Homo sapiens: one gene and its partner. The protein of the gene in region 1 purifies or fractionates together with the protein of each later gene. This does not show direct contact. Each region holds a gene or a part of one and is shown in the gene's direction. Other genes may lie near its edges. The genes, in order: ZNF75A and TPP2.

Region 1 (3,819 bases):
GTCCTCAGTGCTTTTAGGAAGAAGATCCTTTTATTGCTTTTGTACAAGACCAGACAGGATCTCATTTGTTAAACGTGGTACCAATTGGGTGTCTTAACACAGGAGCAGAACTTCCTAGAGCAGAATGATGATGGTAGATCTGAAAGTGGCTGCGTACTTGGACCCTCAGATCAGGGCTTTGTGGGAGACCAAGGGGCCTGCAAGAGAGAGCTCCGGTCAGAGTAAAAAATCTCCTCAAATGGACTGTCTCGATCCTAAGAGCTCTTGCTGGCACTTCCGGAATTTCACCTATGATGAAGCAGGTGGACCCCGTGAGGCTGTCAGCAAACTTCAAGAATTATGTCATCTATGGCTGAAGCCAGAGATCCACTCAAAAGAGCAGATACTGGAACTGCTGGTGCTGGAGCAGTTCCTGACTATTCTGCCCAGGGAGACACAGACCCAGATGCAGAAGCACCATCCACAGAGCATTGAGGAGGCTGTGGCTCTGGTAGAACACTTGCAGAGGGAATCTGGTCAAACATGGAATGGGGTGAGAAGAAAGATTCCTGACATGTACAGTGAAATAGGATGCAGGTGGATATAGTAGAGATGGTGGCAGTTAGTTGAGAAATTAGATGGATTAGGTAGGTCATTGTTTGGTTTTTTTTTTAAGGACAGTTAAGGTGGGACTTGAAACTACAGGCCCACAGAAAAGTTCACAGGTTTCAGAGATTGTGGTAGATACTTCCCTGGCCTTAGAGAAAGAGAGTTGCTTTTGCCCTCTTTGGAGCCAGGGTGAATTGAGGGTGTTGGGCCTAGTCTGGCTTGGCCAAGGAGACAGGACTTAAGTACTTAGAAACAGAATAAAAGGTAATAAAGAGTCAGGGAGGCTGGATGCAGTGGCTCACACCTGTAATCTCAGCACTTTAGGAGGCTGAGGCGGGTAGATCACCTGAGGTCAGGAGTTCAAGACCAGCCTGGACAGCATGGTGGAACCCTCTCTCTACAAAAATAAACAAATTAGCTGGGCATGATGACCGGTGCCTGTAATCCCGGCTATCCTCGAGGCTGAGGAGGGAGAATCATTTGAACCTGGGAGGTTGCAGTGAGCCGAGATCGCACCATTGCACTCCAGCCTGGGCAACACAGCAAGACTCCATCTCACAAAAAAAAAAAAAACAAAAAAAACAAAAAAAAAACGGGCCGGGTGCAGTGACTCACACCTGTAATTCCAGCACTTTGAGAGGCCAAGGCAGACAGATCCCCTGAGCCCAGCCTGGGCAACATGGTGAAACCCCGTCTCTACAAAAAACATGAAAATTAGCCAGGCATGGTGGCACACACCTGTGGTCCCAGTTACTTGGGAGGCTGAGTCAGGAGAATCACCTGAGCCCAGGAGGTGGAGGTTGCAGTGAGCTGAGATGGCACCATTGCACTCCCTTGGGTGACAGAGTGAGAACCTGTCAAAAAAAAAAAAAAAAGGCAGATCCACAAGGAGAACACAGGAAAACAAGGACACTTAAAGAAAAGGAGAAATTGGCCAGGTTCGGTGGCTCATGCCTATATTTCGAACACTTTAGGGGGTCGCGGTGGGAGGACTGCTTGAGACCAGCCTGGGGAACATAGTGTGACCTTGTTGCTATGAAAAAAAAAAAGAAAATAAGCCAGGCTGATGGCACATGCCTCTAGTCCCAGCTTCACAAGAGGTTGAGGTGAGAGAATTGCTTGACCCAGAAGTTTGAGGCTACAGTGAGTTATTATTGCAGCATTGTACTCTGGCCTGGGCAACAGAGTGAGACCTTGTCTCTTAAAAAAAAAAATGTTTTAGGCCAGGCGTGGTGGCTCACATCTGTGATCTCAGCACTTTGGGAGGCTGAGGCGGGCGGATCACAAGGTCAGGAGTTCAAAACCAGCCTGACCAACATGCTGAAACCCTGTCTCTACTAAAAATACATAAACTAGCTGAGCATGGTGGCGTGTGCCCGTAATCCCAGCTACTCAGAAGGCTGAGGCAGGAGAATGGCTTGAACTCGGGAGGCAGAGGCTGCAGTGAGCTGAGATTGCACCACTGCACTCCAGCCAGGGCAACTGAGCGAGACTCCATGTGAAAAAAAAAATGTTTTTAAAAATTAGGAAAAATCCAGCCTGGGCAACATGGTGAAGCTCAGTCTCTACAAAAAATACAAAAATCAGCTGGGCATGGTGGCGTGTGCCTGTAGTCCCAGCCACTCGGGAGGCTGAGGTGGGAGGATCACCTGAGCCTGGGGAGGATGAGACTGCAGTGAGCCATGATTGTACCACTGTACCCCAGCCTGGGTGACAGAGTGAGACCCCCGTCTCAAAACAAAACAAACAAACAAAAAAAACAACTAGGGGAAGACTGCACAAGAAAAGAAAACATAGAAAAAAGGGAAACAAAGATTTGGAAAAAAGAAAAATCCCAACAGAATAGCCAAGGACAGGAAATGCACTGATGGGTAATGTCCTCCCTATAGTAGATGAAAGTCTCTACTGCCTTCCCTTAATGCTTGTTCCTTGGCTCTGCTGACAAGTTGGGAGCCAGGGTATGAACTTGGTGGGTGGCGACACATCTGCTGACCTCGGGTCTGCTGGGAAGAATACAGGGCAGGACCTATGTTTGGTGTCAGAATCATCTGGAGGTAGGTTGGAGCCACTCCCCTTTTTTCTCCATTCTATCCCCATTCTCTGAAAACCTTCGCTGGCTATAGGGATAATCAGGCTGACAGGAAAACTTTTAAATTCATTTATTTGAATTTTAGAGAAAACTAGAAGACAGAAAACCACAACTGTGGGATTGAAGTCAACAGAAAAGGCCTGACAAGACAGTATTAGAATGAGTGGCCTGCCTGGCTGGGCACAATGGCTCACACCTATAATCCCAGCACTTTGGGAGGCTGAGGTGGGCAGATTACCTGAGTTTGGGAGTTTGAGACCAGCTTGACCAACATGAAGAAACCCCGTCTCTACTAAAAATGCAAAAATTAGCCAGGCGTGGTGGTGCATACCTGTAATCCCAGCTACTTGGAAGGCTGAGGCAGGAGAATCACTTGAACCCAGGAGGCAGAGGTAGCAGTGAGCCGAGATTATGCCTTTGCACCCCAGCCTGGGCAACAAGAGCAAAACTCATCTCAAAAAAAAAAAAAAAAATGAGTGGGCTGCCCAACCCTGCCAGTGGCCTGACCTAGACCGTATACAGAGGAGTAGAAGCTGCTGTGTTAAAGGGCTGGCAGGCACCACAGTTTGTTTCCTTTCACCCTAGTTTTCTCATATTTGTGTATAGTCATTTGTGGAGCATTGGTGGCCCAGTATCTCTTTAAGCCTTTTTTTGTCATTTTTTTTAGTGTCTTATACTACCCACAATGTGGGCTGTACACCTGTCGCTCTGCCTCCACCCCCACAAACCAAAAGTAAGTTCTGTGGTAACAAGGATGGGAATTATTTCTAGGTTGCAGTCCATGAGCTGGGAAAGGAGGCAGTGCTCTTGGGAGAAACAGCAGAGGCCTCAAGTTTCGGGCTGAAGCCAACAGAGTCCCAACCAGTGGGCGTATCCCAAGATGAAGAATTTTGGAATACATACGAGGGTCTGCAAGAACAGCTCAGCAGGAATACTCATAAAGAGACTGAGCCTGTGTATGAGAGGGGTAAGGAGCTTCATGATAATTTTCTTCTCCTGGGAGCTGTGATAATAGTTTATTCACCCAAAATGTCATGGGCATTTTTTGAATACCCTGCTCTGTGGATTTGTAAAACCAGCCTTGATAGCAACTATGATGTCCTTCCAGGCAGCAGTAGAAATGCCAACTGTGGATGAAAGTG
Region 2 (3,819 bases), on another chromosome or scaffold:
GGGAGGCAGCACAGAGTAGCGGCAAGGCCACGGGCTTTGGAAATTGAGAAGTCTGGGTTTGGATCCACACTCTGCCATACGCTAATGGTTACCTGGGGGCAGGTTTCTAAATTTTCTGGACTTCTGTTTCAACTGTAAATATAGTCGTTAGTCTGTTGTAAGGATTAGGGATTTTATAGTACTTGGTACATAGCTTGTCTTCGTTGGGATTACGCTCACACTTGACAGTACTTCTAGAGGGTGGAGTCAGAGTTGCTGTGTTCAGCATTCCTGGGGTCCCATTCTCATAGGGCCCCTGGGACTTGTAGAGCTCCAGGCTCTGGTAAAATGTGCACTGGTAAATTAAAGAATACAAATCTATGGTTAATTAATACTGAATTGGGTACTTGTTTAGTGATAAATGGCACTGATTTATGATTGGTTTAGGTTGGTATTGAAAATAATTTGTTTTTTTAAATAAAAATTATCAAATGATCTAGAATGCAAGTAGTTAAGAGAATTTAACAGTCTTAGTTTTATTTCAAATAATTAGAAATATTGTCATAACACTAGATTTTGTATTCTTAGCAACTGACTAGGTTCTGAGAGCTCTCTGCACACCTGGTTTTATGAGCCACGGCATTGCGCCTTGCTTCAGTTCCCTTGAATTAGCTTGGGTGTTCTTTAGAAAAGCTGCCAATCTGGCATTGCGGTGATCTTGGCTTACCTCCAGCGCTGGCTCAGAGTAAAGTTAAGCATAAGTAGTCGTGCCAGGCTTTGTAGACGCACACAGTACACAAGTAGACCAAGAAGAGAGATTAGGAAAAGTTATCAATGAGGAATTGAGGCATGATAACAAATAGAGGTTTCCAAAAATATAACCTTCCTTACTTTATCTGGAATTGACTGGTTTTCAGCTAAAACAAGGAGGGATTTTAAAAGGTACCCGATTAATGTAATTGTGTATGCATCTATGGACAGCTTGCTGTTTCCAGGTGTTTGCAGCCTCATGGTGGTGGTTCATTTTAATACCAGTTTCTTTCGTTCCCATAGAAAATCTTCTAGTCTTCTACCTTTATTAATATTTTGTTGATTCTTTGTTTTTATGGAAATATGCAGATTTGAGTGTACATTTTATTTTTGATCCCTATTATGTCCCTACATGGGAATTATCCCTAAGTGGGCATTATTAAAGCCACTTTATGTCAATTTTAGGTCTTATAAGTTTAAAGCTTTGCTTCTTTCTTTCTTATTTTAGAAGTGACAGTGTGTTCGTGTTCTTCTGAGGTGTCAGCAAAGTTTGTTCTACATGCAGTCCAGCTTGTGAAGCAAAGAGCATATCGAAGCCATGAATTCTATAAGTTTTGTTCTCTTCCAGAGAAAGGAACACTGACTGAAGCTTTTCCTGTCCTAGTAAGTTTAATTATAGTTTATAATCCTAACACAATTTATTTGCCTTTTTGGTATGGGCTAAGACTAAGTATTTGCATTTGATTTTATAGTTTGTATTTAGCATGTTGGGATTATATATTTTTTTAATGCCAAAAAAATGAAGTAGAAAAATAGAAAATCTAATCAGGGTACTTGAAATCAAGTTGGAGGTAATTATGGCTGTAATTCTTGAATAGCATAGTCAAAGAAACATACTAGTCTGGTAGATTCTCGTGCCTTGTAGTTAGGACCCTGATTTAGATTATTCTTTGTTGTACTATAGATTAATTTCTTTAAGACCTGTTTGCTTGTCACTTAACTTATTTTACTAATGCTGTGTTGTTAAGCTATGAGGCTAATTTGCATTATAGGAAAACTGCTACTGCTTCATGTCTAAGTTATCTCAGATGATGGCAGACTGCATTCTTATCTGTGGTGTTGGAAATGATGACTAGTCTTTCTTCCATAGAAGGTGAAAGTACTGATGTTCTTCCTTCAATGCGCTCCTTTGTGTTTTCAGTTGGTTCTGGGATTTTCCCAGTATCTCTTGGTTTCTGGTTACTTTCATTTGTGTTCTTCCATGGATCAGTGTTGCTTCATCTTTTTAAACTTTTAAATCACTGATTACTAGAAAACTTACTTTAAAACTCAGTGCTAAGAGCAGGTGTTTTTTTTTCCTTTTCCTTATCTTTATTTTTTAATAGGGAGAAAGATGTAAATGACCATAATGTCATTTTGTTTTGGTTGCCAGGTAGCTGTGAGCCCAAACTCAATTGTGCCTATTGAGTATGCCTTACAAAGTTGAAGTATCTTTATTGTGTCGTTATACTTGATTATTTTTCTTTTGGTCCTAATTTTTTATTTCACTTCGAAATAATAAAATCACATTTGCTTTATTATATGTGCTTTCAGAAGCTGCCTAGGATCTTTTATGACAAGAAGCATAGGGTTATGAGTAAATAACTATGTATATTTAAATACACCATATCTCTGCAAATGATTTGTCTAACTCTTACTTAGCATAGCTGTTAAAATTTTTGAGTTTTCTTGCTACAAACAGGAAAAGTTTGAAAACAGAATTGCTCTGAAACAGCTAGTATTTATATTCTGTAATTTGAGAAAAATAAGAAAAGAGATATATTTTATTTACTTTTATTTGCAGGGTGGAAAAGCAATTGAATTTTGCATTGCTCGTTGGTGGGCAAGTCTCAGTGATGTCAACATTGATTATACCATTTCTTTCCATGGGATAGTGTGTACTGCTCCTCAGTTAAACATTGTAAGTTCCACAACATTTTCATGATTTTTAATGTCAGTTACTTGTGTTACTGGAGAGTAACTTCATTGGTTAGATTTAAACTTTAATGAGGGGAAATTACCTGTGGTTCTGAAGATAGCAGTAGGCTTTGTGTGTGGGTACTTATAAACTTTATATTGGACACATTTATTTTAGGTACAAAATATTGCTTATTTTTAGTAAAGTTTGAGAAAGTAATTTGAGAAATCCTTTGTAGCATGCATCGGAAGGAATCAACCGCTTTGATGTTCAGTCCTCCTTGAAATACGAAGATCTGGCTCCCTGCATAACTTTGAAGAACTGGGTCCAAACACTGCGGTATCATTCAATGTTTTAGGAACTACAGATATTGAATATAGATTGGGGGGATCTCTTACACTCTTAAAAAAGGGCCTTTTTTTTTTTTAATCCACCTGCATGCTAGAGGTGAGAATTTTATCCTTGCCAGCAGATCTCTGCAAGGCAGCCCCAGTATCAGCTTCTAGCTTCACTGTCCCACCTGACCAGCAAAGTCAAGGATGGTGGATAGCCGATCCCAGTCATGACTAGTTAGGATCAGTGGACATTAACCTTTTTATTTCTTGCTGTAAAATAGCAAGTTAACATTCTCTCTGATATTATTTTGTGAATCCTAATGCAGTCATTTTTAGAAACTGCAATACCATTAGAAACTGTTTATTAAATGGTAGAAACTTAAGTACTGTAGCCTGCTGTTTGTGCCTCAGCAGCTCCCCTTACAAAAGCAGGGCACCTTGACCTGTGTTCACATACTCACTGTGTTATAAAGATACCTGGTTTCTTTTGTTTAATCTGACCTTAACTCATCGGCATGAAGCCTAGTCTTAAGTGTATTAAAATAACCAATTAGGGACAATAGTCAGTGACACGGTGATGTCTAAAGATATACTGCTTCCTAGAATTATCAATAAAAATTAAAACATCCAGCTTTTGAAGATATATCCAACTTATATCATCCTGATGTTTTCTTCCTAAATCTAAAAAATTGGAGCTAAATTTAGAGTAGATTATGTTTCACTGACATTTTAAACTATATTTAAAACTTACTCTTCAGTGTCAGTTTTCTCCTTTATAAAATCTGTACATTAGCAACT

Evidence for each region.
Region 2: the proteins of ZNF75A (region 1) and TPP2 purify together in Homo sapiens (affinity purification with mass spectrometry; one large-scale study listed by BioGRID and IntAct). This does not show direct contact.

The regions. Positions count from the first base shown.
Region 1 is NC_000016.10:3,308,305-3,312,123, forward strand, and holds part of ZNF75A (zinc finger protein 75A), read left to right. Parts: intron 1-8; 5' UTR 9-124; coding exon 125-532; exon of another isoform or gene 533-2,642; intron 2,643-3,344; exon of another isoform or gene 3,345-3,448; coding exon 3,449-3,644; intron 3,645-3,819. UniProt on the Homo sapiens protein: May be involved in transcriptional regulation.
Region 2 is NC_000013.11:102,641,985-102,645,803, forward strand, and holds part of TPP2 (tripeptidyl-peptidase 2), read left to right. Parts: intron 1-1,237; coding exon 1,238-1,392; intron 1,393-2,572; coding exon 2,573-2,689; intron 2,690-2,924; coding exon 2,925-3,025; intron 3,026-3,819. UniProt on the Homo sapiens protein: Cytosolic tripeptidyl-peptidase that releases N-terminal tripeptides from polypeptides and is a component of the proteolytic cascade acting downstream of the 26S proteasome in the ubiquitin-proteasome pathway.